Linked DNA regions of Homo sapiens: all the other regions are reported to be linked to region 1. Evidence: microRNA targets listed by miRTarBase, many of them from high-throughput screens and not tested one by one. Region 1 holds a microRNA gene; each other region holds the end of a gene's coding sequence.
Evidence for each region. The annotated mature microRNA hsa-miR-4755-3p reads AGCCAGGCUCUGAAGGGAAAGU and lies in region 1 at 2,582-2,603, shown strand. An mRNA with a match to its seed (bases 2 to 7 or 8) in the 3' UTR can be bound and repressed. Matches are read on the target gene's strand: a 7mer-m8 pairs with bases 2 to 8, a 7mer-A1 pairs with bases 2 to 7 and ends in A, and an 8mer does both.

Region 2: the mRNA of SCN1B is a reported target of hsa-miR-4755-3p. Seed matches in the 3' UTR shown: 7mer-m8 at 5,703-5,709.
Region 3: miRTarBase lists BLOC1S3 as a target of hsa-miR-4755-3p. Seed matches in the 3' UTR shown: 7mer-m8 at 2,055-2,061.
Region 4: miRTarBase lists IPO9 as a target of hsa-miR-4755-3p. Seed matches in the 3' UTR shown: 7mer-m8 at 1,943-1,949, 7mer-m8 at 4,481-4,487 and 7mer-m8 at 6,872-6,878.

Annotation. Positions count from the first base shown.
Region 1 is chr20:34,046,581-34,053,908 of GRCh38, forward strand. It overlaps MIR4755 (microRNA 4755), which reads left to right and starts at 2,539; the gene lies at 2,539-2,610. The region is part of intron 2 of RALY (RALY heterogeneous nuclear ribonucleoprotein); the gene reads left to right. RefSeq lists an enhancer at 1-38.
Region 2 is chr19:35,038,561-35,045,888 of GRCh38, reverse strand. SCN1B (sodium voltage-gated channel beta subunit 1) reads right to left here. Exons shown (of 6, transcript NM_001037.5): 4 at 6,631-6,772; 5 at 6,183-6,254; 6 at 5,440-6,092. The coding sequence ends at 6,188. HPN (hepsin) reads right to left here and starts at 4,168. Exons shown (of 13, transcript NM_001384133.1): 1 at 4,017-4,168; 2 at 3,367-3,436. The coding sequence starts at 3,382. RefSeq lists an enhancer at 4,697-5,536.
Region 3 is chr19:45,178,830-45,186,157 of GRCh38, forward strand. It overlaps BLOC1S3 (biogenesis of lysosomal organelles complex 1 subunit 3), which reads left to right. Exons shown (of 2, transcript NM_212550.5): 1 at 1-2; 2 at 459-2,971. The coding sequence starts at 468. The coding sequence ends at 1,076. Among named protein-coding and RNA genes, the nearest start is that of BLOC1S3, 3.7 kb to the left of the region's middle. RefSeq lists enhancers at 1-201, 742-1,242, 1,668-2,169 and a silencer at 552-861.
Region 4 is chr1:201,875,364-201,882,691 of GRCh38, forward strand. It overlaps IPO9 (importin 9), which reads left to right. Exons shown (of 24, transcript NM_018085.5): 24 at 581-7,328. The coding sequence ends at 691. Among named protein-coding and RNA genes, the nearest start is that of SHISA4, 9.9 kb to the right of the region's middle. RefSeq lists an enhancer at 6,944-7,328.

The sequences.
Region 1 (7,328 bases):
CTTTGCTAAGTGTCCAGTGCTTTTAAAAGGACTTACCACTGCAAGTGATTCCATAGTTGTCTCCAAATAAAAAGTTAATTTTTAAAAAGCACTGATCTCATTTTTTATATATTTGTTATTCTTGTTGTGTGTAGATAGAGGCCAGGTTAGGATTCAGTATATACCTGTGTTCCAGTTGTTGCTCTGTGATTTTCTAGCTGTGTAAACTTGGACAAGTCACTGGACCTCCACTCTTTTTTTTTTTTTTTTTTTTTTTGAGATGGAGTTTCGCTCTTGTTGCCCAGGCTGGAGTGCAATGGTGTGACCTCGGCTCACTGCAGCCTCCACCTCTTGGGTTGAAGCAATTCTCCTGCCTCAGCCTCCTGAGTAGCTGGGATTATAGGCATGTGCCACCATGCCTGACTAATTTTGTATTTTTAGTAGAGATGGGGTTTCTCCATGTTGGTCAGGCTGGTTTCGAACTACTGACCTCAGGTGATCCTCCCACCTCGGCCTCCCAAAGTGGGGGGATTACAGGTGTGAGCCACCATGCCTGGCCTTGACCTCTATTCTTAATGTGTTTTTCACACTAGAGCCCTAAAATTCAACACTAGTTACATTTGGAAACCTGACTTGCTAATCTGCTGACCTTGGAAAATGTGTCTTTGTTGAATACAGAGCAGTAGTACCTGGGCTGGCCCTGTGTGACTTAGAGCGGACAGTATGGGAGGTGGAGAACTGGGTGCATGGGAGCCATTAGATCAAGAATTGGAAATTCCTCACAAATAAAAGGTTTCTGGGGTAGGAGCAGGGGGCAGTGTTGATGGTGACTCTGCTTGGATTATCTTCTAGGGATGGAGGATTGCCAGCTCCATTGAATGGAAGGACTGGTGATGCGCAGCCACTCTTGCATGTGCCCGGGCAAAAGACAGTGTGTTGGTGGCAAATGCCTAATGTGTCTATGGCTGACCATGGGCCATCTCTGCCATTCAAGACATCAGCTCCTGGCAGAGTTGTATTGGTTTGATAGAGCTTTAGTCTTCGGAGTCGCACAGACCTGAGTTCAAATCCTTCTCTGCCATTTACTGTAATAATTGTGTTCCTTAGGCTGATCCTTTAGCTCTCAGATCCTCTTTTTCCTTTTCTCTAAAATGATGTGGTTGATATCTGCTTTTGAGGTTGTGAGGATTTAAAATAACAGGTAAATAGGTGCCACACAGTACCAGATACTTAGTTGGGTGAGTAGCCTGGTGATCTGTGGCTGTTAGCTCTTTGAAGGCCAGTATCCCTAGGAGATAGCAGCAACGTCAGCACTGCTCTGATTCCCTGACCAACCCCCAACCCCACCTTTGCCCTCAGAAATACCCTGGACCCTTGTTTCCTTCCTCAAGTTCAGACCCCAGAAATGTTGGGCAAGAAGGAGCCTCCAGGCCAGGCTTTATTGTGCCAGATGTTATATCTGAGTAAGCAGGATTGTTACACAGCAGAGATACAGGAGCAGAGCAGGTAGCTCAGGCAGCTGCTGATGAACAAAAGGCTTCTTCTCTCTGTTCCCAATAAATTGGTCCTTGGGGATCCTAGCTTTGAAATTCTAATTGACACAGGAAGGAAAAGATTCATTAGGCTCTGGACTCGTTAAAATGCTCTGCTGCTCACCTACGATTTATTCTTGGCACTTCATCAAGAGGAATTAAGTAAACCAATGGGCTGGGAGGCTCCTGACAGCAGAGTCGTGTGTCTCTCGTGCTCCTGGGGGGATGAGAGTGTTGGGTCTCCTATGCTATGGAGCATATAGCTGGCTTTGGAATCTCCTCATCCCTAGGACTTCACATGAGTCTAAGTCTCATATGCTTTTAACAATGGAGGGACCTTCTGAGATCATACTGTGTAACTCATTTATAGATGGTCCAAAGAAGAACTGGGACTTGCTCAAGATCACGAAACGCATTAGTAGTGGAGTTAGAATTAGAATCAGTCAGGCTGCATGACTTCCAGGTCAAGAATATTTTCTCTGCGGCCGGGCGTGGTGGCTCACGCCTGTAATCCCAGCACTTTGGGAGGCTGAGGCAGGTGGATCACGAGGTCAGGAGATCAAGACCATCCTGGCTAACACGGTGAAACTCCATCTCCACTAAAAATACAAAAAATTAGCCGGGCGTGGTGGCGGGCGCCTGTAGTCCCAGCTACTCGGGAAGCTGAGGCAGGAGAATGGCGTGAACCCTGGAGGCAGAGCTTGCAGTGAGCCGAGATCGCACCACTGCACTCTAGCCTGGGAGACAGCGAGACTCCGTCTCAAAAAAAAAAAAAAAAAATTTTCTCTGCATCACCTTTGGATTTCTACACCCAGTGTTTCATTCATTCAGCCTTCAACAGATACTTTTAACACATTCTGTGTGCCAGGACTCTGTGATAAACAAAACAGCCATGGAGGAAAGTAAATACCTGACCCAGTATTAGGAGAGATTAGAAAGGCCTCCAAGTCTGAGAGATGGATAGGAATTAGCTCAGCAAGGAGAGATGAGGAAGGTTATGGCTGAGGAACTGGCATCTATGAAAGCCAGATTCAGCTTTCCCTTCAGAGCCTGGCTTTGGCATCTATGAAAGCCAGGCTCTGAAGGGAAAGTTGAATCTTGCTAGAGTGGAGAATTGAGGAAGAGATGAGATGTTAAGGCAAGCCGAGTCTATGAGGTTTGGGCCACTGTATGGTTGTAAAGAACCCTGGATCTGGGATTAGGAGTCCTGAGTTCTAGATATGTTTCTGCTACCAATATGTTAGTCATCATTCTAGTAACACTTCACATCTTTTAGGTGTGCCATGATGGGCACTGGGGTACAAAAATGTGTAAGATGTATGTAGTCCCCTCCCTCAGAGATCTGTCAGTTTAATGAGGCAAGCAGGCTAATTAAGAACCCCTGTAGTAAAGGAACAGTTACCTCTGCTGTAAGAAGTCAGAATTGAGCTGTGTGTTACTTTAAGCACTTTCTCTGGGCTTTGATGATCTCACCTGTCAAATGGTAAATAACCACTGTCCTATGTAGCTGGTAAACTGATGAGAAGACAGACAACTTTGTAATGATTGGCGTTTGTTTGGCATTTTGTGGATTTCAAAACACTTTTGACATCATTAATTCATTGAACCTTAACTGCAATCTTATGACTTAGGAAATTTCCCCACAATGTACAGATGAGGAAACTGAGAGAGGTTGAGGCTTGTTCATAGTTTCACAGCTTTTGATTAACAAAAGTTAGGATTATAAATCCAAATCCCGTGCTCTTATTTTGAAAAGTATAAAGATGGCAACCTTTCTTTCTATCCCCTACTTAGTGGCAAATTATCCCCTTCCCCTTTTCACAGTCACCAGAAATGCAGAGAATGTCTGCTGTGTTTGAAAAGCAGATCTAAGCTGACTGGGGAGAAAGAAAGGAGCTTATTTCAGGTCTTCTTCAGGCTGGACTCTAAACTTTTAAGATCATGTGCGCCCGTGCTCCCATCAGCTCCTGCTGTTCCATCTCATGCCATTTACAGAGTGCCATTTACTGAGCCACTACTTCATTGGCTACTCATAGCAACTTGTGGGGTAGACAAAGTGCACTTTACAGATGGGCAAACTGAGGTCCAGAGTCCCTGAATTGTACATGTCAGAACCAGGATTGAATCTAGAAGTCTTGGGCTCCTGACACCAAACAGGTGCTCTTAACTTGCAGAATGTAGGTTCCTTTGATTCAGTTCGGTTCAAACAATTCTTGAATATAACCCATGTGCCAGAGACTTTGCTATGCAAGAGAGCCTCTAGTTAGGCTCAAACCGTCTTGGTCTAGTGCCTTACTTAAGAACAGGGACTTGTATTATTTACTTCTCTGTCCCCAGGCAGGACCTTGATCCAAAAATGCTTTGCTGTTGTTTTTGGCCTTAATCTGCCAGAAACTAGAGGGAGCAGATGGCCACAGCAATGTGGGTTATGAGGATGTGATATCAGGCAGGGTTGAAGGATGAATTGAGAGCCCTGCACCCAACTACTTCTGTGTCTGTGCCTAGGCCCTTGTCAGGGTAGTCTCTATCTGAGAGTGTAGCTGGTCAGCCTGGTCCCATTTCTCATTTCCAGTCACCTCCCCCTCTTGCCATCCCATATAATGGGGTTAGTCTCCTGGACAGATCTCATACAGAGGCTGCTGGGATCTGCTGTCCAAATGACCCTTTGGACCTATTTCCCAGCCATGTTCCAAGATGATGGTGAGGAGTCTAGCCCCACAGCCAGTATGCTATCTCTATTCAGATAACTCCCAGCTCACAGGCCTCCCACCAGGCTCTCACCCACTCTGATGTTTTCACTCCTGACTCCTAAGAAGCAGATTGGCAATTTAGTGTGAGTCTGTCAGACAGCCTAGAGAGTAATCAATACTGAGAGAAATGGACATATTTCCTGTTTATTCAAAATCCTGATGAAAATTTTAAGGAGCACTATTTGGGAAGGGATGACTGGGAACCTTGCAAGAACAAACAGCTTAAAATTCATGAACAGAAATAGCAACGTTTATTCATGATGTTTCAAATGCCCCTAATATTCACATCTTTATATATTACAGACCCCTTTCATACGTGTTACTGCTTTTGAACCTTAGAGCAACTCTGTGAGGGAAGCAGTGTAAGGATTACTATTCCCACTTGACAGTTGAGGAAACTAAGGCCCAGGAAGCTTTAAAGAGAGTTAGGGACCATCTGATAGTCATGGTGGCAGAGCCCAAAACAGAACCAAGATTTGGAAAATGAGTACTCCTGGGTTTGAAATCTGGTGCTCGCCACTTTCTAGTTGTGTGACCTTTGGCAAGTTACTTGGCCTCTCTGAGCTCAGTTTCCTTCTCTGTAATACGAGGATAACAATGTCTACTCCTTATGGTTGTGTATGGATTTAATGATATAATTAATGGAAAATGCTAGCACAGTACAGAACATGTGTTAGGAGCTTAGTAACTGCAGGTATCCTATCTCATAGGATAGCGTTTTCAGTATATTGCACTCTGAGTCTTTGAAATTTGATACTTTTTTTTTGTTTTTGAGACAGAGTCTCGCTCTGTTGCCCAGGCTGGAGTGCAGTGGCGTGATCTCCGCTCACTGCAAGCTCCGCCCCCTGGGTTCATGCCATTCTCCTGCCTCAGCCTCCCCAGTAGCTGGGGCTACAGGCGCCTGCCACCACACCTGGCTAATTTTTTTTGTTGTTGTTGTTGTTTAGTAGAGACGGGTTTTCACCGTGTTTGCCAGGATGGTCTCCATCTCCTGACCTCGTGATCCAGGTGCCTTGGCCTCCCAAAGTGCTGGGATTACAGGCGTGAGCCACTGCGCCCAGCCTGATACTTTCACTACAGTAAAATGGACTACATATAATAAATTCTCATTAACCAGAGTATCATTTAAATGCCTCACTAGGTTAAGAGAACTGGATAAGAAGGGAAGCAGGGTGCTCCAGGCACTGGCTAAGTACTCCTGATGCAAATCACAGTAGGTTAGAGCTGACAGGGACCCTAGAGATCTGTCCCAGTGTGTCTTCCTCAAATTGTGTCTTCCTCAGAAGAGATGTTAATAATTTGGGAAACATCAGATTGAATAATGCTAATAAGTAAATTTCTTTACCGCTGCCTTTGCAGACCCTTATTGTGTGTGTCTCTTGGGAACGAGTTGAGAGTGCAATATGCCAAATTTCCTCTTCTTATTTAACCTTGGAGCCCCTTTTTTGAGGAACTCTCATTAACATCTTGAGGAACCCTGGTTTTCCGTGGAAGATTTCATGTAACTGACTCAGTCCAGTTCTTTAATTTTTAAGATGAGGGAAGCTTAAGGTCTCTAACCAAGGTCTACAGCCCATGGCAGAACCAAGTCTAAATCTCAGGGTGCCTAACTTTTTCCTAGGCCACACCATAATTTGTACTCCACTATTGTTCCTTTTCTAGCCAGCAAATCCTAAAATTACAGAGGATCCTGCAAACCACTAATCAGAGAGCATTGTTAGAGCATCAAGCTTTCTGTTTTGATGTGTTTATCCCAGTAGGCAGGAAAATGAGGAAACAACAGGCTTAATGGCCATCAGATGTTTCCAAACAGTTGAAGGACCAGGGGTCAAGTAATTATCTCAGTAACTGGAAAGGTGCCCTTACCGTGCAAAGTCGAACTCTGTTCTTCCTGCTGTAAGAAATTTGAGTTATATCTGGGGGACTCATCCAGTAGGCCCACAGTCCCCACAGTCCAGCTCCTACTAAGAACTAAGCTCTGACACCAGTAATATAAAAAAGATCCTGAGAGGGGTTTGAAGAGAATGTGTAAGTTTCTGCTCCTCTGTCACCGTCTCCATCACAAAATTGAGGGGGTAGGAATGTTCTGCTGGATTTCTATCCAGACAGTGGCAGAGGAAGTTGGCTTTGGCATTTAGTGGGGCTATCCTTGCATTTTACTAAGCCCTCTAGTTAAGATCAAATCAAGTTTAAAAAGAAACTTTTTTTTTTTTTCACTCTGTTGGCCAGGCTGATCTCGAACTCCTGACCTCAGGTGATCCGCCTGCCTCGGCCTCCCAAAGTGCTGGGATTACAGGTGTGAGCCACCACATCCAGCCCAAAAATATCACCTTTAAATTTGCAAGTTTATATGGTAGATTGTTCAAAGCACATCTGATCACAACACAATCCCGTGACATAGAGGTTCTTTTCCATGTATCATATGAGGACGTTAAGGTTCAGAAAAGAGATGGTGACTTGTCCAGGGTTTGACGGCAAATTAGTGATAGACCCTTTTCACAAGTGCCTAGTGCAAGGCCAACATTTAGTAGATGTTCAATAATTTTTTTTTTTTTTTTTTTTTTTTTTTTTTTTGAGACAAGGCCTCGCTGTGTCACCCAGGCTATAGTGCAATGGCACAGTCATGGCTCACTGCAGGTCCAACCTTCTGGGCTCAAGCAGTCCTCCCACCTCAGCCTCCCAAGTAACTGGGACTATAAACATGTACCACCATGCCCGGCTAATTTTTAATTGTTTTTAGAGACAGGCTCCCACTATATTGCCCAGACTGGTCTTGAACTCCTGAGCTCAAGCAGTCCTCCTGCTTTGGCCTCCCAAAGTATTAGGATTACAGGCGTGAGCCACCATGCCTAGCCAAGAAATATTTATTAATTGAAAATTTTAGTACATTCTCAGGGATTAACTTATGGTCTCCTAACTCTTTGCCCAGTATTCTTTCCATTAAGATAGCTTGGTGGGGCCAGTGGTTGGGCTTCATCTCAGGGTGACCAGATAATAAAGAGAGGGAGGGCTGAATCTCTGTCACTATTGATATTGCTGACAAGGATGGCATTTTCTGGCCTTTGCT
Region 2 (7,328 bases), not on the chromosome of region 1:
CAGAGGACTTCAGCGCCTCCAGTGGGACAGGAAGCATCTGCATCCTGGGGTTCCCCCAGTATGAGAGGCATCCTCCCTGCATGTCTCTACTGGGACAGGCAGCATCCTCATCTGGCCCACGGTGTGGGACGCATCCTCATCCTCCCTGCGTGTCTCTACTGGGACAGGCAGCATCCTCATCTGGCCCAGGGTGTGGGACGCATCCTCATCCTCCCTGCGTGTCTCTACTGGGACAGGCGGCACGTCAACATCAATTCTTTGATCCCAGCAGCAGGGCTATTTCCCTTGGTAAGCCAGACCTCCCCCACCCCTACATCTCCCTGAGACTCTCTGCCCCTGCTTCTCCAGGCCCCTCTGGATGCCTTGGGTCTTCTCATAGGTCAGTTCTTCCGCCTCCACCATTTGGCTGCAAAGACCCCCACGCGTAACACCTTTGGCTCTCTGGCTCTGAAAATCCACTCAACTGGTGGCTCCGTGTCTCGGGCCTCATCTTACATGACTGCAGCTTCCTGTATAAATGCTCTCCTCTTTGGACTTCTGGGACACCAGGCGCACCTGATTTTCCTTCCCGCCTCTGAGGCTGCTGTCTTCACCCACCCTCTACCTACTCCGTAAAATCCAGAGTTTGTAGGGCTGGCCGCAGCCTCCCCCTGCTCCTCCTTGCCCCTAAGTCTGTCTCACCCACCTCTGTGGACTCAGTTTCCCCTCTGTCCCCAGCCCTAGACCCTCTTCCAGGTCCCAGGTCAGGGCTCCTGCAGTCCTTTAAATACCTTTTAAATACCTTTCCCTGGGACCTCCTAGTCCCTTTGCCCCTACCAGGTCCCAGAATGTCTCCCCAATGTCTCCCCAAGTATATTCTTCCTCCCGGTCCTGTCTCAGAGGCCCTCACTCCTAGGACCATCCCCATCTGCATAACATTCCCCTCCCCCGACAGCCTGCCAATCCTCCTGAGTGACTCTCCTTCCCCCGTTTCCTTCTTTCTCTCCATCTGCACCTTGCTCCGGCCCCATCCAACCGCTGGGCTCAGTCTCCCTTCTAGCGCACCCTCCACACGGAGGCTTGGGGAACCTACTGAGACACCAAATCCAACCTGTCCCCTCTTTACCTATAGAACCCTCTGTGACTCCCTAGTACCCCCCAGACAGCTTAAGTCCCTCAGCCTGGCATTTCCAGCCCCACTAGGGTATAAGCATGGCTTTCAGAGATTTGGGAGTATGTTTCCCCCAATTCTCAGACAACCATGTGGGTCACTATCAGGTACCAGAGAGAGCTTCCAAAAAGCAACCCAAACAGTAGAACTTGTAAAATACAAGTTAGACAAGAGAAGCAGGGACTAACCACTGGCGCCACCTTGTGGAGAGACCTGGTACTGCAAGGAATTGGCCAGCTCTTCCCCAAAACAGTCCCACCCCTGCCTGGTCCAGCTTGCACACCTCTTCTCCCACCCAGCTCAACTTCCAGCTTCACCTCCAGAAATACCACAATTGGCTACGTGCACACCAGTGCTGTGTCACCTCCCAGCTTCCCAGAGAAGAGCAAGAGCCTTGCTCTTCCCTCTGCCTGGCATCCTTGGAATTGCAACTCCAGTATCACCTCCTCCAATTCCAAGTTTCCAGGCAGCACCAAGAAGCCAGCAGCAATAACAGTGACACCAACAACAGCAGCCGCTGCAGCCACAACGGCTCTCTGAATCACACACGGACGCACCGCCCTACCCTAACCCCGTCCAGTCCTGCACAGCATCCTTACTTAAATCCTTGCAGCTGTTCACGAGGAAGGCGCCATTGCCATCACCCCCAGTTTACAGATGAGAAAAGGAGGCCCAAAGTCCGGCAGCCACCAAACCCGGGTCACCCGGCAAGTAAGTGCAGAATCGGAACCCTTCAGCATCTGTGTCCAGGTTCGACCTCCACACCCCTAGCCCTGACAGCAGGACTCCCCTCCAAGACCAGCCCGGAGCTGCCAGGGAGGCACCAGAGCCCACTTTGTGTCTGTTTCTCTTTGTACCCAGGCCATCTCTGTCCATTCGGGCATTTTCTGCTTTTCTTCCCTGGCTCATTCACCCATGGGCCCAAGCCCTGGGGCTGTCCTTCCGGCAGCTCCAGGAAAGAGATTGTCCCCAAGGAGCTGGATTCTGTCATCCACCTGCTCGGCTAGGGTGCAATGCCTTCTCCTGAGTAACTGGGAGCCTGGGTTCCCTCTGGACTGCAGCTGATTGGTTTGGGGTCTGAATTGCCAGCTGTGCCGAGACCCGAGGAGGCCAGAGATCTGAACTAATCATTTCAGCCAACACGCTCAGTGCTTCCTGCCCATCCTGGCATTTCAGGCCTCGCCCCACGCTGTTGGACATGCACTGTCACCCTCTCCATTTCACAGATGAGAGAATGGAGGCCCAGGGAGAACACGCCGTCTGCCCAGGGCCACACAGCTAGAAAGTGCTACTGCCCAGGACTGAGCCCGGCTATCCTGGTTGCGGAAGAAGAGAGGGAGTCAGCCCCAGCTAGGGGAAGGCAGAAAGAACAGGACGCCCCTCCATGCGCCCCTCCAGCTGGGTCCCATGTGTGAGAGGTAGAAAGGAAGCCAGGCTAGCTGGGGGCTGCCCAGAGACTCCCAAGGGCCAGCAACTCCATGACGCAGTCTCTCTCTCTCATCCTTATGGTGGTTTCTCTGCCGTCTCTCCCCTCTCCATCCATCCAGGCCCAGTCCAAAGTCCTCCCTCTGCTCTTTTGCCCACAGAGCCAGGAGGTGGAGGAATGTCTGGGATCGGTGGGGGTCCTGGGTCTCTGGGACTCCGAGTTTGCCAACCTCTGTCATGACAGCTCTGCTTGATGGCATGCGTCTTATATGCAGAGCCCCAGACCAGTGCCTGGTGTGTGTCATGCACTCAGCAACCTCACAGAGGGAGGACTGGTATCCATGCTTGACCCAGAGGGAGACCAAAGCCCTAAGAATAATGTCACTTGCACCAGATCACACAGCAAAAAAGATGGCAAGAGCAAATTCAAATGCAAGCCTGTGTGTTTCACTCCAAATCTGTGTCCTTAACCATGACAGCTACAGCTTCCCCGCCTCAGCCCCAGCAGAGGACAAGTCCAGAGTTAGCTGAGAAATCACTGGGGGATGAGGGGAAACTGAGGCAGCACGCCAGGAAGGTCACATAGGGTAGAAGGGAGGCTGGTGGTGGCACAGCTGCACAGAAAATGTGGTTAATAGTTAATCAGGTGGAGGAGGACTAACAGGGGTGGGGATGCATCTGGGAGGGGTGCCCAGAGAGAGGGGGCTCCGAAGAGTAGAGGGTAGAGAAAAGAGCACAGAGGGCGGGGCGCCAGGCAGAGCCAAAGCTGGGGCTCAGGGAAGGGGACTCACCCTCCTTCTGCGCCATGTCACTGCCTCTTGTTAATGATTCCCTGGCTGACCTCCTGGGCCAGGGTGGGACCTGTGAGGAGATGGACGGGGAGGCAGGGCCTGGGGGAGCCCAGCCCAGCCCAGTCCTGGCGCCCCCAGTCCCAGGCGTCCATCCAGGCAGGCTGTAGGGACTGGGCCTTGGCCAGAGCACGCCGTGATCACGGACGCAGATTGGGCTGGGTTCAAGGATGGGGTCAGTGTCTGACCAGCAGCGGGGGGACGCCTGGATTTGCAGGGATGGGGACCCCCATGCCTGAGCCTGGTGGAGCAGGGGACTGAGGATCCCGGTTTGAGGGAGGAGACAGCTGAGGACCTGAAATCATAAGTCTTGGGAAAGGAGGAATTTGGGGGCCAGGACTCCCTAGTATGAGGGAGGAGGGGCCTGAGGGCTGGAACTCCTGGGTCTGGGGAGGAAAGGACTGGGGTCCAACGGCTGAGTCTGAAGGAAGAGCAGGACAGAACACCTAGGTGCTTGGGGGGACGTCATAGTGCCCCCTCTTCAGGTCCCCAGGAACCCCTCTATTAGGAGGTGGGCATTAGGCTGGGTGGGGGGATGAGGGAACCCCTGTCCTCAGGGCTGGAACTGTGAGTCTGGGGGCCCTTGTCCTTACCCTGGGGTCCAGCAGGTGGGGGCGGAGCCTCGAGGTAGTGCCGGGGTCGGGTCAGTCTCCAGGCCTGGGCAGGAGCATGGTGGCCCCGCAGCAGCGGGCGGCCTGGAGGCAGAGGCGGTGGCGTGGGGCCTGCTAGGCCAGGCTGCCTCACCTGAGGAGGAGGGGGCTGGGCGAGGGGCGGGTGAAGGGGCGGGGAGGGGCCGGACCATTCGATTGGCAGCACTGGAGGCCACCTGGCTGATGGGGCCGGGCTTGTGGGGGCTGGACCAGGCGGGCCCAGCTACGGGGCTTGCCTTGGACCTCCAGGGGGACCCAGGTGTGCCTGTCTGCGGGGATGTGGGAACAGGGACAGGCCTGGCCGGAGGCTGGGGGTTTAGGGAGAAAGTGCAGGCTGAAGGGTGGGGGTCTGACCAGAAGAGATCAGATGGAGGGCCCCAGCTGCCCTAAGCCCACTCCACCCTCACCCAGCGAACCCTTCCCCCCGCCCTTTCTGCGTCCTCCAGCCCCAGGTCCTGGCTGTGCCCGCCACTTGCTGCACCTCTGCCTAATTCCCTGCCCAATTCCTGGGCCCCAACCCCAGCCCCAGCCTCTCCCGCCTGCCCTGCTCATCCTGCCCCGGCCCCTCCCCCGCTGGCTTCCTACAAGTCACGGGGCTGGTTTGCTTTGGCAGCCTCCGCCCGGCCGCGGTGACCTCTGGAGCCAGAAAGTCCTAGCACTAGATAGGGGGGATGGGGGGCTTGGCCGGGAAAACACAGCGCTAAGGGCAGAGGCCCAGGCCAAGTGGCCGGAAGCGTCCGCAGGCAGATAACACACTGTCCCGCCAGCAGCCAGGCGCGGCCCACGTCAGACCCAGGGCCAGGTAAACACCAGACGTGCAGGGTCACCGCCAGACACCTGCCCGTGCTCAACCACACGCCGGACACAGTCGGCCTCGGCTGCTTGCCCCAGATAGGCCACCCGCACAACCGGCCCCACCCGCTTACCCACACGTGCCCGCTGTGCCCAGCCAAACCCACCTCCACCGCACCCATTTCCTCCACTCAGCCCAGGGCCCCTCATTGGGACACGCTGGTTTAGCCTGGCTTCCTCTGCCTTTCCATCCATACCCGTCTCTCCTTCCCTCTCCTTCTCCCCAGCGCCCACCTCTCCAGAGACTCACACTGCTGGGCACACCACACACCCCATGCCACCCCTGCACCCCAGCATCAGCCTCGATTCTCTTCCCTCCACGGCACCCCCTCCCTTCCTGGCTCCGTTCCACTCTCCCTCACCCCTGAGCCCATGGCTCCCCCAACCCCGACACAGATCAGGCACTAAGTGGCTTCACCTGTGGGCCCTCAGGTAGGGTCCCTGGAAAGCGGGCTCGAAGATTCGGGGACGGGAATGGGGGGAAGGTGACGGGGCTCACAATCGAAACTATGCATCAAGTCCAAGAGTCTTTATTTCATGAACAAAACTACTTCTGTAAAGAGACGAGGCTGAATGGGCCCCTTTCTAGGTGGCCACAGTTCAAGGCTGGTGAGAGAGGGCGAGGTTGGGCCGGGGCAGGAGTGCATTACAGGGAGGGGGGACCCCAGGTCCAGCCGGAGGAAGCGGGAGGGGAAATGATGCCGGGGAGGGGGAGTCGGAGTGGGTCCCAGAACCCCCTGCCCCAAACTGCTCCAGCCCATCATCGCGACCCCTGCCGCCAGGCAGGGAGGAGGCGGGGAGGGGCTGGCCCCAGAAGTGCGTGTCTGAAGCGGCCAATGTGTGCAAATCAGCAAGGAGGAGGGGTGCGGGGCCGCTGCCCCCACCTCACCGCCCCCCTCCCCAAACAGGCAGCAGAAGCAGGGTGGGGGCAGCGGCAGTATTGCTTTACCCATCATGCATGGCGGTGCGCGGCCGGCGGGGCAGGAGCTGGAGGAGGCGAAAGTGGGGGTGCGAGCCAAGCCCCCTGCCCCCTCCCACCCCAGTGGCTCCGTCGGCAGGACTCTGAGGCTTTCTGGGGCCCAGGAGTGGCCACCCCCACGCTGGGGGCAGGCGGTGCCTGGAGAGTCCCCATTACGGCTGGCTCTTCCTTGAGGCGGGGCCCAGGGCCTGAAGGGGAGCAAGAGAGGGGGAATTAGGGACCTGGGGGACTTCGGCCCCTCCCAATCCCCTTCCCCTCTGCCAGCCCATCCGCCTTACCAGGGCTATTCGGCCACCTGGACGCCCGTGCAGTTCTCTTTGCTTTCAGAGGTGATGGCCAGGTATTCCGAGCTGTGGGGGAAAGGCCAGGTATACAGTGACCCCATCATCAGACCGACCCAACCCCCGGGGGATGGGGGAAGGTAGCGGTCTCCACCCCAGGTACACAGGGCTCCTTAGTTAGAGAGAGAAGGAGTCTATGGGTGGACTCCTCAGGGTCTTTGAGGAATCTGGCTGGGAGCCTGGGCTCCTGAGTTGGAGGGAGGAAGGGGCTGGGTCTGACGACCCCTATCCTGTGTCTGACAGGGAGCACTCCCCTCTGGGTAGTACTGAGAGATGGCGCCCTGGGCCGCTCCGCTGCCTCCTCCCTGCCCGGGCTCCGGAGTTCCTCTCTGGCAAGTGTGACGGTGCCCTGGGTGCCCTCCCACCTCCCAGCCACCCTACTCACGCATTCTCCTGTGCAGCAGTCTCCGTGGCGGCAGCGATCTTCTTGTAGCAGTAAATCATCTCTGCCACGAGCCATATGGTCAACACCACAATGAGCACATACATCATGATCTCAGACACGATGGATGCCATGTCTCTGTTGGCTGCAGGGGCCAGGCAGGGTTAAGGGGGTAGCCCAGGCTGCATGACAGCCTGAGTGTGCTGTGAGCTTGCTGTGTGAGCTTGGATGAGTGGCTCAACCTCCCTGGGCCTGGTGTATGCACTGTGATTATTAATACCCAGCCTTGGGTAGGCCTGGTGGGGGTCACCCTCAACCTGCCTCCCTGTGTAACTCGAGGCCACATCTGTGTCATTCTGGAGGCCCTCAGCACGGTGCCTAAAAGCCGTAGCTCTGCAACCAGAAGGCTCAGGTTCAAAGGCTGGCTCTGCCACTGGCCAGCTGTGTGACCTTGCGCAAGTGACTCAATGTCTCTAGGCCTCTGTTTCTTCAATTGTAAAATGAATACCTCCTTCATCAGAGTGCTGTGAGAATTAAATATGCTTTAAAATCCTTAGAATAGTGCTTGATCTATAAATGGCACTCAGTGAAGGTTCACTTGTATTAGTATTATTATTGTTGTTATAACTGGGGCTATAAAGCCTAATGGTTAACAGCTGGGGCTCTAGGGCCAGACTGCCAGGGTTCAAATCCCGGCTCTG
Region 3 (7,328 bases), not on the chromosome of region 1:
GGGTACGGTCTTTGGCGTTAGCGCTTCTCCCATCCCATGAGTGCCCCCAGCAGAGTCCAGTCGGACTGTCATCCTTTCTGCGACTCTGGCGCTGGTCCCGAGCAGCTCACGGGCCCGTGTGCTTCCGGGTCTGAGATTGGCATGGTGGACCAGGTGGAGGGTGTGGCCTCTACTAGGAGGCAAATTCGTAAAGACCTCGGCTTGGGACTCCGGGAACTCGGGCCCCAGATCCTTGTTCGAGCTGGTCTTCAGTTTCCCCATCTGTACGCTGAAGAGCCTGGGGTCCAGTAACCCCCATCATCACCCAGTTTACAGAAGAGGAAACTGAGGCCCAGACGGGGAGCAGCTGACACCAAGTCGTTAAGAGAATCAGCGAAGGGGCTGGGAATCCAGGACCTGCGCCTTTTACCCACCGCGGCGCCGGTCTCACGTGCAGTCCCTTCGCTCTTCTCCCCTAGTTCGGTGCCATGGCGTCCCAGGGTCGTCGGCGGAGGCCCCTGCGGAGGCCGGAGACGGTGGTGCCGGGGGAGGCGACCGAGACGGATTCCGAGCGCTCTGCGTCCTCGTCGGAGGAGGAGGAGCTGTACCTGGGTCCTTCGGGCCCGACGCGCGGCCGCCCCACGGGGCTGCGGGTGGCTGGGGAAGCCGCGGAGACCGACTCGGAGCCGGAGCCGGAGCCGGAACCGACGGCCGCGCCGAGGGACCTGCCTCCACTCGTGGTGCAGCGGGAATCGGCGGAGGAGGCCTGGGGCACGGAGGAGGCCCCGGCGCCCGCCCCCGCGCGCTCGCTCCTGCAACTTCGGCTGGCGGAGAGCCAGGCGCGGCTGGACCACGACGTGGCGGCCGCCGTGAGCGGTGTCTACCGCCGTGCAGGCCGCGACGTGGCCGCCCTGGCTAGTAGGCTGGCGGCAGCCCAGGCGGCGGGGCTGGCGGCGGCCCACAGCGTGCGCCTGGCGCGCGGGGACCTTTGTGCGCTGGCCGAGCGTCTGGACATCGTGGCTGGCTGCCGCCTGCTGCCGGACATCCGCGGCGTGCCAGGGACCGAGCCTGAGAAAGACCCGGGGCCGCGGGCCTAGCCATGATTCTACTTCCCAACCTGACTGCAATTTGGGGGTAGGCCTTGCTGCCTCTGGGACCTGACTCTGTCTCCTGTGTCTCTTATCACCCCCCACCCCCGCTCCCATCTTGGTGTCACCCATGGGGGCTAATCCGGTCCCCTTGGATAATGCTTTATATTGGATATAGTTCAACCCCTACTGCGGAGACCAGGGCCCCACTATCCTTAGATCTGGTTCCTCTCCCGATCCTGACCCTGCCGCCTGGTTCTGAGCCTTCCCCTGGGGCTTGGCTCCAGCCTTTGTTACATAGTTGCTCCTTAATCTGTTTCCACCCTGGGGGCTCACCAATTTTTTTTTTTTTTTTTTTTTTTTGGAGACAGGGTGTTTATCTGTCACCCAGGCTAGAGTGCAGTGGCGGGATTACTGCTCACTGCAACCTCGACCTCCTGGGCTCAAGTGATCCTCCCAGCTCAGCCTTCAAGAGTAGCTGGGACTGCAGACCTGCACCACCACGTCCAGCTGCCCGGTTAATTTTTTTCTGTCGGTTTGAAGAGGGGAGAAGGTCTCACTATGTTGCCCAGGCTTGTCTCAAACTCCCGGGCTCAAGCAATCCTCCCACTGTGGCGTCCCAAAGTGCTGGGGTTACAGGTGTGAGCCACCACACACTGGGCTCTGCTCTGCCTTTCTGAGTTTGGTTTCTGCTTATGGTGGGGAGCTTGTTCCCGTTCTTCCCACAAGAACCCAGGATGTGGCACAGCTTCCCTGCCGTCTTCCTTCACTCAGTTGGCTACGCCTCCCATCCTAGCTCCACTTCCAGAACTGCCTTCACCCTAGGCTGGGTCCTTGTTTTGTTTTTAGAGACAGGGTCTCACTGTGTCTCCCAGGCTGGAGTACAGTGGCGTGATCTCGGCTCACTGCCACCTCCACCTCCCGAGTTCAAGCGATTCTCCTGCCTCAGCCTCCCGAGTAGCTAGGATTACAGGCATGCACCACCACGCCTGGCTACTTTTTATATTTTTAGTAGAGATGAGGTTTCACCTTGTTGGCCAGGCTGGTCTCGAACTCCTGGCCTCAGGTGATCCACCCGCCTCACCTCCTAAAATGCTGGGATTACAGGCGTGGGCCACTGCGCCTAGCCAGCTGGGTCCTTGTTCTGCTGCCCAAGCTTGGCCCTGGTTCCGTGTGCTGGTTCTACTTTTTGTTCTCCCATCTGCCTCCTGCCTCCTCCCCTTTGAGCTTAGCCCCGCCCTCTCAGCCTGATTTCTGTTTCCCAAGTCCAGCAGTGTCGTGGGATAGGTTTTGCTTTCTTTTACTGTCTCCATCCTACTTACACCTCCCTGATCCTGGGGTCTGGGGACTCCCCATGGTTTCCTTCCTTCTGCAGGCCCAAAATGATGGCCCCTCTTAACCCAAGGCAGGGGATCTTCCTCCCAACTCCCTGGACCAAGGTGGCATTTCCTGCACACCCCTCCAGGCCAAGATGATGCTCGCTCTCAACTCTGTAGGCCAAGGTGGCGTCTCCTCTTGACTCTCCAGACCTAAAGTGACACCCTTCAGGCACTTCGGGCCCAATTCAGCCCAGTCCTGGTGCTTTCAGCGCCAGATGACAGCACTTTGCAGATAAGAACGATATGATGTGTGGATTTCACTACATTTGGCTCCTGGATGCTATAAAAGGACTTGGATTTCTGACTTGGCTCAGGGACTGGGGTTAGCAGTCTCTTTCTGCTCCTTTTCACCTGTGTTTTCTTCCGATCCCAGCTCTGGTCCCTCAGCCGCATTCATATTTACTCTCCTCTCCCAGCCTGATATCCCTGTCCCTCATCTCAACCCGAAGCCAAGATCTGAGCCCCCAAGATGGAGAATGGGGAGGAGCTTTTTATGGCGGACTGATTAAAACTCTTAAGCATTTACCCTTATGGTTAGTTCCTTTTGTTTCCCTATCTAAGCTAAGGGTGAGTTGGTTGATTTCTCTGAGAATGGGGGTCCCGAGACCTCCATGCCTGGCTTATGGAAGGTGAAGCTGTAGTTGGGAAATCAGGGGCCCTAGATTTTTGCCCTGGTTCTGTATTTACTCGTATTTTATTAATTCAACACACACGTTTTGGGTACCTGACCTGTGCTGCGGCTAGGGGTATAGCACCCAGTCCCTGCCCTCACAGAGGTCGCAGTCCAGTGGGAGAAACAGTAATAAGATGTTCTCATAGATAGTTCTAGTAATCATAATTTATAGTTTAATTTTTAAAAATAGAGATGATAGCCTGGCCAACATGGTGAAACCCTGTAGTTATTAAAAATACAAAAATTTTGGGCGATGTATCACGCCTGTAATCCTAGCACTTTGGGAGGCCGAGGCACGTGCTAGTAATTCCAGCTACTCAGGGAGCTGGGGCATGAGAATCGCTTGAACCCTGGAGGCAGAGGTTGAAGTGACCCAAGATCGTGCCACTGCACTCCAGCCCGAGCGACAGAGCAGGACTCTGTCTCAAAAATAAATAGGCCAGGCGCAGTTACGCATGTCTTTAATCCCAGCACTTTGGGAGATCGAGGTAGGCAGATCACCTGAGGTCAGGAGTTCTAGACCAGCCTGGCCAACATGGTGAAACTCTATCTCCACTAAAAATACATTAGCCAGGCGTGGTGGCACATGCCTGTAATCCCAGCTACTCGGGAGGCTGAGGCAGGAGAATCGCTTGAGCCCAGGAGGTGGAGGTTACAGTGAGCTGAGATCATGCCACTGCACTCCATCCTGGGTGAGAGTGAGACTCCATCTCAAAAATAAATAAAAAATAATTAATTTTAAAAAATAAAATAGAGACGAGCTCTCACAATGTTGCCCAAGTTGGTCTTGAACTTCTGAGCTCAAGGGATTCTCCTGTCTTGACCTCCCAAAGGGCTAGGATTACAGGCATGAGCCACTGCACCCAGCCATAATTTATAATTTAGATACAATTTTCTTGGCACCATGATTAGAGCCATGAAGAAGTAAAGGAGCTTTATGAAGGTGGAGCGGGATCCACCTGACCTAATCTGGGCGGGAGAGAGGAAGTGATGAGTGGTGCTGGAGCTGAGCCCGGAAGGTGGAAGTAGGTGAAATGGGAGTAGGGTGAAGAGTTGCAGACAGGGAGAACAGCATATGCGAGGGCCCTGAGGCAGAAGGGAAAGGGACCATAACCTGTTTAACAGAAGAAGATGATTTCTGCTCTCCACCTAGAATGGAGAAGTGTGGGGTGGTTGTGGGGCAGGGGGGTGCTGAGTGCAGTACCAGAAGGGGCCAGATAAAGGTGAGCTTTAAAAAAATTGTATTATTGGCTGTGCGCAGTGGCTCACGCCTGTAATTCCAGCACTTTGGGAGGTCGAGGCAGGCAGATCACCTGAAGTCAGGAGTTCGAGACCAGCCTGGCCAACGTGGTGAAACCCTGTCTCTACTGAAAATATAAAAATTAGGCATGGTGGCACATGCCTGTAATCCCAGCTACTCAGGAGGCTGAGGCAGGAGAATCGCTTGAACCCGGGAGGCAGCAGTTGCAGTGAGCCAAGATTGCGCCACTGCACTCCAGCCCAGGGGACAGAGCAAGACTCTGTCTCAAAAAAAAAAAAAAGTAGGTGCGGATCAACCAGCATCTCCTCCCTCCTGAGCACTCCCTCCAGCTCCCCTTCCACACCTAGGGCGAGTGGATCACAATTCAAAGAGGATGATCTCCCAGAACTTCCCTTTTCTTTTTCTTTTCTTTTCTTTTTTTTTTTTTTTTTTTTTGATATGGAGTCTCACTCTGTCGTTCAGGCTGGAGTGCAGTGGCGAGATCTCAGCTCACTGCAACCTCCACCTCCCAGGTTTAAGCAATTCTCCTGCTTCAGCCTCCTGAGTAGCTGGGATTATAGGCACGTGCCACCATGCCCAGCTAGTTTTTCTATTTTTTTTTCTTTTTAGTAGAGATGAGGTTTCACCATATTGGCCAGGCTGGTCTCAAACTCCTGACCTTGTGATCTGCCTGCCTCTGCCTCCCAAAGTGCTGGGATTACAGGCATGAGCCACCACACCTGGTCAGGACTTCCCTTTTCAATGAGTTTAGCGAGAGTCCCTGAGGAGCTGAGCTGCCTGGGAGAGTGGCAGCTTAGTGGTCTCATGGTGGACTTCCAGCCCTGGAGCACAGAGCTTCCCTCACTCCTTAAACTCCAGCTCACTAGCCAGGCCTGGCTTTCAGCCCCTTTCTTTCTTTTTCCCTCCCTCCTTCCTTCCTTCCTTTCTTTCGGTGGGGTCTCACTATTTTGCACAGGCTGGTCTTGAACTCCTGGCCTCAATGGATCTTCCCACCTTGGCATGGCAGGGATGGGAATCTGATTGGAGAGGGTACAAGAGGGTGTGGAAGGAGAGCCAGAGACCATCCTCTTTGCAATGTTGAGTGAAGGGGTGGGATGGTAAGAAATGGGGAAGTGGCAGTGCATGGTGGCTTACACCTGTAATCCCAGCAATTTGGGAAGCCAAGGTGAAAGCACTGATTGAGCCCAGGAGTTTGAGACCAGCCTGGGCAATATAGCGAGACCCCATCTCTACAAAAAATACAAAAACTAGCTGAGCGTGGTGGTGTGCGCCTGTGGTCCCAGCTACTCGTGAGGCTGAGATGGAAGAATCACTTGAGCCCAGGAGGTCGAGGCTGCAGTGAGCCATGATTGTGCCATTGCACTCGAGCCTGGGCAACAGAGTGAGACCTTGTCTCAAAATAAAAAAGGGGCCGGGCGTGGTGGCTCACGCCTGTAATCCCAGCACTTTGGGAGGCCGAGGTTGGTGGATCACGAGGTCAGGAGATCAAGACCATCCTGGCTAACATGGTGAAACCCCATCTGTACTAAAAATACAAAAAATTAGCTGGGCACGGTGGCGGGCACTTGTGGTCCAAGCTACTCGGGAGGCTGAGGCAGGAGAATGGCGTGAACCCGGGAGGTGGAGCGTGCGGTGAGCCAAGATAGCGCCACTGCAGTCTGGCCTGGGTGAAAGAGCGAGACTCTGTCTCAAACAAAAAAAAAAAAAAAAAAAAAAAAAAAAGGAAGGAAGGGAGGGAGGGAAGGAGGGACCGACTGGGGAAGTACCTAGATGGGGAAGATGGGAGGGGTCATGGCATGTTTGTATGCTGCTGGGAGTATTTCAGAAGAGGGAGAAGTCGTGATACAGGGGAAAGGTGGGAGAAAAGCCAGACCATTGTCCTGCAGTAGGTAAGAAGGGAGGAGGAGATAGCCCCCAAGGGGAAGGGCAACACTGGGGTAAGAGAGACTATTTGTGGCTAGTTGCAAGTCACTGGGTAGTGATGACCACTCTGGTCATCACTGCCTGGGAACTGGTCTGTCACCCCCACTGGACTGTTGGCCCCATGAGGACGGGGCTGAGGCTGTCTTGGCCAGGGCCAGCTAACCCAGGGAAACCACAGAGTAGATACTGGGCAAATTGTTTGTTGAATGAATGAATGGCCTTCACACCATCACACGGCATCAGCCTCTCAGATGCATGGAGCTGTTGAGACGTTCGGGCACAGCCTCCCTCCAAAGGTGATGGGCACTCGGTCCCACATAACACATCACCCTCAGATGTGCAGGATGAGAGGGTCAGACATGCACCAAAATGCTAATAACACCCACTCCACAAATATTTGCTAACCACATTTCAAGGGGAAAGGCATTCAAGGCAGAAAGAATAGCATGTGCAAAGAACCAGAGGCAGGAAAATCCTGGGGGTGCTTGTTTGGGCGAGATGAATTGTCTGTTGTGCATGGACTGCTATAGAGGGGCCTTTGGCAGGAGGGAGAGCTGAAGACTCAGTCAAGAGCCAGGCCACACAGGGCCAGAATGAGGAGCAGGGCTTTGTCCCAAGGGCCCTGGGGAGCCAAGGCAAGTTCCAAGCAGGAGAGAGGCAGGGACGAGTTTGTGCTTTAGCAAGAGATACCTAGATGGGTCAGGTGCGGTGGCTCATGCCTGTAATCCCAGGCCTTTGGAGGCCAAGGCAGATGGATCACCTGAGGTCAGAAGTTCGAAACCAGCCTGGCCAACATGGTGAAACCCCCGTCTCTACTGACAATACAAAAATCATTCTGGGCGTGGTGGTGTGCACCTGTAATTCCAGCTACTCAGGAGGCTGAGGCGGGAGAATCACTTAAACCTGGGAGGCGAACATTGCAGTGAGCCAAGATTGCGCCACTGCACTCCAGCCTGGGCAACACAGCAAGACTCTGTCTCAAAATAAAAAAAAAGAAACCTCTGGCTACTGAGTGGAGGGTGCAT
Region 4 (7,328 bases), not on the chromosome of region 1:
AGGATTGCTTAAGCCCAGGAGTTCAAGACCAGTCTGAGCAATGCAGGGACACCCTGTCTCTACAAATAATTTAAAAATTATCTGGGCATAGTGGCACACCCCCGTGGTCCCAGCTACTCGGGAGGCTGAGGTGGGAGGATCGCTTGAGGCCAAGAGGTCAAGGCTGCAGTGAGCTGTGATCATACCACTGCACTCGAGCCTGGGCGACAAAGCAAGACCCTGTGTTCAAAAAAAAAAAAAAATCCATTTATAATTTAACATGGGAGCCTCATGGGAAAGAGTTCCTGTCTTGTTGAGTGGTCCAGGGTTTTGGGTGGGCTGGAACTTTGCACTTGATGTGTTGTAATTCATCTTCTAGAGGCTATGTTGTGAAGGTCCTTGGGGTGATACAGCCTTGGAAAAATGTTGTTTCCCTGTGGATTACCTAAACTAGATCCAAGAACATGAAAGACCATCCCTCAGGGAGCTGGCATTTGTCTAAAAACCAGCATTCCCTGTGCCATTTGATTGTGGTTCTTGCTCCACTGCAAATGGGTGACTTGCAATGTCTCACTAATGCCACTCTTGCTCTTTCCTCCAGGCATATCTCACAGATTTCCTCTGCCAGTTTGCTCAGCAGCCCTGCTACATAATGTTTTCAGGCCACCTTAATGACAATGAGAGGCGAGTTCTACAGACCATCGGCATCTAAAAAGGGGAGCCTTTCTACATTTGCTCCTTCTGGGCCAGCCGCAAACCATTTTGCAGCCCTCACTGGCCTTGAGATGCACTTTCTTCTCAACCTAAAGTGGCATCTTGACCCTTGGCCCTTGGCCTCGGCAGTGACACTGATGACAATTCAGACCAGGCTCACCGGTGCCGTCACTTAGGAATGCTGGAACAAAGGACATTTCTCAAAGTTCCCCTGAAGACATGCCATCTCTAGAACCTTTTTTCTCCCCGACTCTACCCCCACCTCTGTTCCTAGAGCCCTCTGCTGGCGAGTCCAGAAACATTATTGCCCAGAAGGATTATGTGTTTATGGATTATTTTGCCCCGCCTCAGGAGCGCAGGAAGTCACTACCATTTATATTCTAAAACAGACCTATCTATGTTCATAGGACTTCTGATGTGTTCAGATAGGAATCCTCATGAGAGATCATTATGCTTTGTGCCCTGGACCACTGCTGCTCTGGGTTCTCAGGAGGAACAGGCAAGAGCAGCTTCATTCTAAGCCTTTCCAGTGACCTCAGCCTTGCTTCTCTTCTACAACACTAAGGCTCCTCTGTCAGAGGAGGTCGTCTTGTTTTTGCTTCATTGCATGACATAACCCTTCCCCTCAAGCTGTTCCTATATATACATGCACACACAAAATAAGCCAGACAGATGGCAATTTGATCTTCCTTTTTTAGAAAAAAAAAAAAAAATGGGGAAAAGGGATTTTTTTTAAATCCACCTGACCCAACTATATTTAATATGCCTCTCCCACACATTACCACAGAGTCTGATATTCAAAGGTTATCCCCTTTCCCTCAGGAAGCCTCTAAAGTGCTTAAGTTGTAGCCCTCAAATTTGCAACATGTATTTTTCTAGGACAGTAAAGTAATCTTTACAAATGAATTTAGTTGCATGGTATAAGGTGTCTCAGCACCTGTTTGCCTTCTATTCCCTTTAGAAGGTAAGTAAAAGTAATGGGGGAAAGGATTAGGTGGAGCCTGTCTAAACATTCTAGTGTGTCTTGGCAAACATAGCCTGAAATGATTCTTAAAGAACTGGCATTGTTTAATCAAATATTTTTAAGGGAGATTCCTTAATTGGGAAGTTTAGTCTGTTTGGGGTTCAAAGAGTAAATGAGGATTAGAAAATCATGGAGAGAGGCTGGGCGCGGTGGCTAACGCCTGTAATCCTAGCACTTTGGGAGGCTGAGATGGGCGGATCACTTGAGATCAGGAGTTTGAGGCTAGCCTGGCCAACACAGTGAAACCTGCATTTCTACTAAAAATACAAAAATTAGCTGGGCATGGTGGTGCATGCCTGTAATCCCAGTTAACTTGAGATGCTGAGGCAGGAGAATCGCTTGAACTTGGGAAGCAGAGGTTGCAGTGAACCGATATCACACCGTTGCATTCCAAGGCAAGACTCAATCACACACACACACACACACACACACAAATCATGGGGAGAAAGATGAAACCTGTGTTCCCCTTTTTTTGGTAGTGCCCACATCTGGTGCCCCATTTTTAATAACCACAGGATATTTCTTTAGATTGATATTCTCACAAAGAAGAAATAGAATATAGGCTGGGCGTGGTGTGTCACACCTGTAATCCCAGCACTTACGGAGGCCGAAGCCAGCGGATCACCAGAGGTCAGGAGTTCGAGACCAGCCTGACCAACATGATGAAACCCTGTCTCTACTAAAAATACAAAAATTAGCCAGGCATGGTGGCATGCACTTGTAATCCCAGCTACTCGGGAGGCTGAGACAGGAGAATCGCTTGAACCTGGGAGGCAGAGGTTGCAGTAAGCCAAGATCGCACCATTGCACTACAGCCTGGGCAACAAGAGGAGCGAAACTCTGTCTCAAAAAAAAAAAAGAGAAAGAATATAAAGTGAATCTGAATCTCCACTCAAGGGGATGGCCCCAAGGATATTGTAGCTGGTAATTTCTTCATGCCACTAGGTGTCCCCAGTGTTCAACCTCCATGACTGAGATTGGAAGAAGTAGAGTTAAAAGTTTTTACTACCTTTGAGAAGCCTGCGGGCATGTTCACAGTCGTCCCATGCCAGCCAGGTTCTGAGGCTAACTGCTTGTGCCCCTGCTGCTTCACATGGCATTGTGGGAGTTGCTGATACTGGGGAAATGATGGCAGATCTGACCAAGTGGTGCTGAGAAAACCACCCTCGGCCTTGCAGACTCCATAGTTTATCTCAAGGCAGTGCCAGTCGGATTTGGTGCTAAAGGCATAAGGCCAAGTCAGCCTCTGATATTGGCACAAAAGAATGGTCTCATGCCAGTAGCATTGAACTGCTGAGCTTGGGAAGGCTTAAGGCTCCCACACACAGACTGAGAATGATGGGGGTCCCTCTGCGTCTGCTAATTAGACAAACATTCTATATCTAGTGCCAAAAGTGGTCCTAAATCCTTTGGCAAGGGTCCTTTCTGCTCTCATGCTGATTTGGGGGAGGACTGGGCATCCTGCCTCAGGAGAACTTGAGTCCTGAGGAAAGGGCCCTAGTAACACTTAAGGGCTACCCCTGGCTAACAGATACTCGGCTGTGGGTGAGAGCAGAAGGTCTTGGACCCCTCGATGTGCAGGTACTTAATTGTGTTTCCAGTGCATTTTCATATACATTATCCCATTTAACCTTTATAACAGGTTCACAGAGTGGATATTCCCATTCTGTTGATGAGAAAAAGAGTGGAGAGACTGTGTCCAGTGTCAGCAGGAAGAAAAAAGATCTGTTGGAGGCCAGTACATGTTGACAGAAACTCTAGACCATATTTTGTCTCCTGTCTTTGGCCAAAGAGAACTAGCTTCAGTCTGAAAAGGGCAGGGCTAAGTGGTTACAAGGAACTAAAAAGTTCAAGGTAAGACAAATGAGGTAAAAATAAAAAAGAGCACTTAGCTGCTCTGAGACATTTTAGTCTCCTGACTGGTAAACAGCAGCTGGGGCACCAAGGGGCTCCCAGGAGTTTGTCGAGCTTTTATTGGAGTGAACTGAAAGGAAAATGGAAGGAATGCTATAAGACTGAAAAGAAGTTAAAGCCCTAGGAAGGAAGCTGATAACACAAGTTACAGACGTATATGTGACATTGATTTGGGAGAATGAACCTACAACAAATGACCCAAAAGCACCTAAATAAGAGTGACGAGAGTTTAACAGACATTCATTATGGACTTCAGAGAAAATGATGCTAAACTGGTCTTAGAATCTTCTTTAATTTTGTTAACTAGGTAAATAATCTGGACATTTTAGTCAAAGCATTAGACAGACAGAGAAGTTGGTAACTGACCACTAACTAACAAACTATAAATTCACCCATTGTGGGTTGACCTGGTAAGTTCCCCCAGGGCTGTGTCCTTGGCCCCTCCTTTGATATTAGTGACAGATGACTTTTTTTATGCCTTACCCATTCCACAAAAGAATTTGAAGCCATTTACACAAGAGATAGTACTAGTAAATTAGGAGTGCTGATCAAATTTTTAGATAATAAGAAACCCTTAGGAAGGATGACAATTTAGAATCCAAATTTAGGATCCAAACAAATACCATTACAAACTATAAAAATGAGCAGAATCTAAATGTAACATTTCAATAAATGCAGATTGATAATAACATCTGTGCAGAGTTGAGGACTATAGAGTACTGTGCTGTCACTAACAGTATTGTGTGCTACTAAGAGTTTAATGGCTGGGTGTGGTGGCTCACACCTGTAATCCCAACACTTTGGGAGGCCTAGGTGGGTAAATCAGCTGAGATCAGGAGTTCGAGACCAGCCTGGCCAATGTGGTGAAACCCCGCCTCTACTAAAAATAAAAAAATTAGCTGGGCATGGTGGCACGTGCCTGTAATCCCAGCTACTCGGGAGGCTGAGGCGGGAGAATCACTTGAACCTGGGAGACAGAGGTTGCAGTGAGTCGAGATCACACCATTGCACTCCAGCCTGGGCAACAGAGCAAGATTCTGTCTCAAAAAATAAAGTTTATTATGCCAGGAGGGCCAGGTGTGGTGCCACACCCATGTAATCCCAGCACTTTAGGAGGCTGAGGAGGGCAGATCACTTAAGCCCAAGAGTTTGAGACCAGTCTGGGCAATGTGGCAATACCTTGTCTCTTAAAATTTAAAATAAAAAAAAAGTTTATTATGCCAGGAACTGTTAATGTGTCCAAAAAAACTCCAGTGTGGTTCTAGGATGAGATAATAAAAACAGGTTGTCTAGGGTAGTGTGGAAGGTCCTTTCAGTCTTCCTGTGCCTATCAGTGATCCTCATTGCCATGTTCCCTTCTGGTGCTCAACCGGAGGCTCCCTGACAGATGAGTCCTCTGCCAGAGGAAGGCTAAGATGTAGAGGACAAATCGTGTCAAGGAAAAGAAGCTTGAAGGAGCTAAGAATGCTTAGCTTAGAGAAGACAAGAGGAAACAGGACATGGCTTTGGGAAGTTCAAGGATGGTCCAGTGAAATACATACTATACTTTTGCACCCCAGCTAAGCTGACCCATGATCAGTAAGTAGGAAATAAAAGGCCAATTTCTGGCTACTCTTGCCCCCAACCCCATTTCAGTGAACTATGAACCTCTATTAGATATGCAAGGCCGGTGCTAAATGCTGGAGGGCTTTGGCCCTTTCCCTCAAGGAGCTAGTCTAGTAGGGGGTCAGAAATACAGATGGGCCTGAACATAATGATGGTTTGACTTCCAGTTTTTCAACTTTAGGATTGTGCAAAAGCTATACACATTCGGTAGAAACAGTACTTCAAGTATCCATACAATCAGTACAGTATTCAATAAATTACATGAGACATTCAACACTTTATTATAAAATAGGCTTTGTGTTAGATGAGTTTGCCCAACTGTAAGCTAATGTAAGTGATCTGAGTAGGTTTAAGGTAGCCTAGGTGTATTAAATGCATTTTTCACTTAACGGTATTTTCAACTTTTGTTGGGTTTATTGGGATGTAGCCCCATTATAAGCTGAAAAGCATCTGTAGTATAATAAATGTGGGGAGTGCTGTGAGAGAAATAAGTGTACTGGGTTTAGTTCCCACTGCCCAAAAAAGGAACTGGCTAATGGTAACCTGGGGGAGGAAGTCGGGTAAGTTGCATGGAGAAGGCAACCCTTGAACACTTGCAAGGAGCTAACAATACCTGCTTCTGGAGTATTTAAACGCCAGTGGGTATGCTAAATACTTTTACCTCAGACCACCTACTAACCTTACAAAGTAGTCCACTTTGCTCACCCAGTTTTACAGATTGATGAAACTGAAGCAGACAGATATTGTTAACCTATCAAAGGTCACCCTGCAAGTGTGTGATTATAGTCCAAGCAGCTTGTACTTGTTGCCTATTTGTTTTGCCTTTCCTGTGCATTTGCCAGGCAGATGAGAGTGGGGTAAGACATTGCAGAGAAAAAGTAAGAAAAGGCCGTCATGAAACAATTTCATTTTCAGACCTTATAAGCACGTTACAAGTACTGATATTTATGCTTAAGTTCACGGGAGTCCTGGCCAGAAATAAAGCTGGAAGGACAAGTGGGGGGCAGATTGTGAAGGATCCTTCAAGACCTGCTTCCTCTAGAGAATGGGAGACTACCCAAGATAACTAAACAGGGAAGTGATCAGGTTTTGTGTCTTAGAAAAGTGTTGCAGTGTTGATGCAAATGTGACTAGAAGGGTGACTTGGAACCTGGATTGAAGGGGTGGGAGATGGGAGAAAGGAATGCAGTCTGGCAGCAGCTACAGCAGTCCAGGTGGGAAAACCCAGAGCCTGAACTAAGGTTGTAACTAGAGGGGATAGGGTGGAAGAGCTGGATTAGAGATGTTGACAAGATAAAGTCAGTAGGACTTAAAGACTGACAAGTAAGGATTTTCCAAAAGTGAGAGCTGTGGAATGAATTGTCTTAAAATGTTGCAGTGAGTTCCTCCTCATCAATCCAAGTGCTCGATCAGAGGCTAGACCTTTAGTTAGCAGTCACGGGAAAATTCCCCATTCTCACGGGGATTTAGACTAGGTCTTAACCATACTTTACCAAGATTCCAGTAGCAAAGCACCCAAAAGTAATCGCAATAAAATTCCAATTTTTGTAGGCCGGGCATAGTGGCTCACACCTGTAATCCCAGCACTTTGGGAGGCCGAGGCAGGCGGACCACGACATCAAGAGTTCAAGAGCAGCCTGGCCAGCATGGTGAAACCCCGTCTCTACTAAAAATACAAAAAAATTAGCTGGGCATGGTGGCGCATGCCTATAATCCTAGCTACTCAGGCAGCTGAAGCAGGAGAATTGCTTGAACCCGGGAGGCAGAGGTTGCAGTGAGCCAAGATCATGCCACTACACTCCAGCCTGGGCGACAGAGCGACACTCTGCCTCAAAAAAAAAAAAAAACAAAAAAAAAAACAAGTTTTGTGAATTTAAGTTTCCCTAATGGATGGTACAGGTCAACATTTGCCATCTAATGACACTTACATTCCAGTTTTTTCCTTTTTTGAGTAACTGGGAAAAGGGTGGCATTACTGCTGGCTTCCTAAAATTGAAAAGTATACTAGGGTTTTTAAACCTGTGTAGAATACATGATATGGTAGCAAATGTGCTGTAGGAAGAAAAGCAATGAGGAACTACTGGCCTGACTA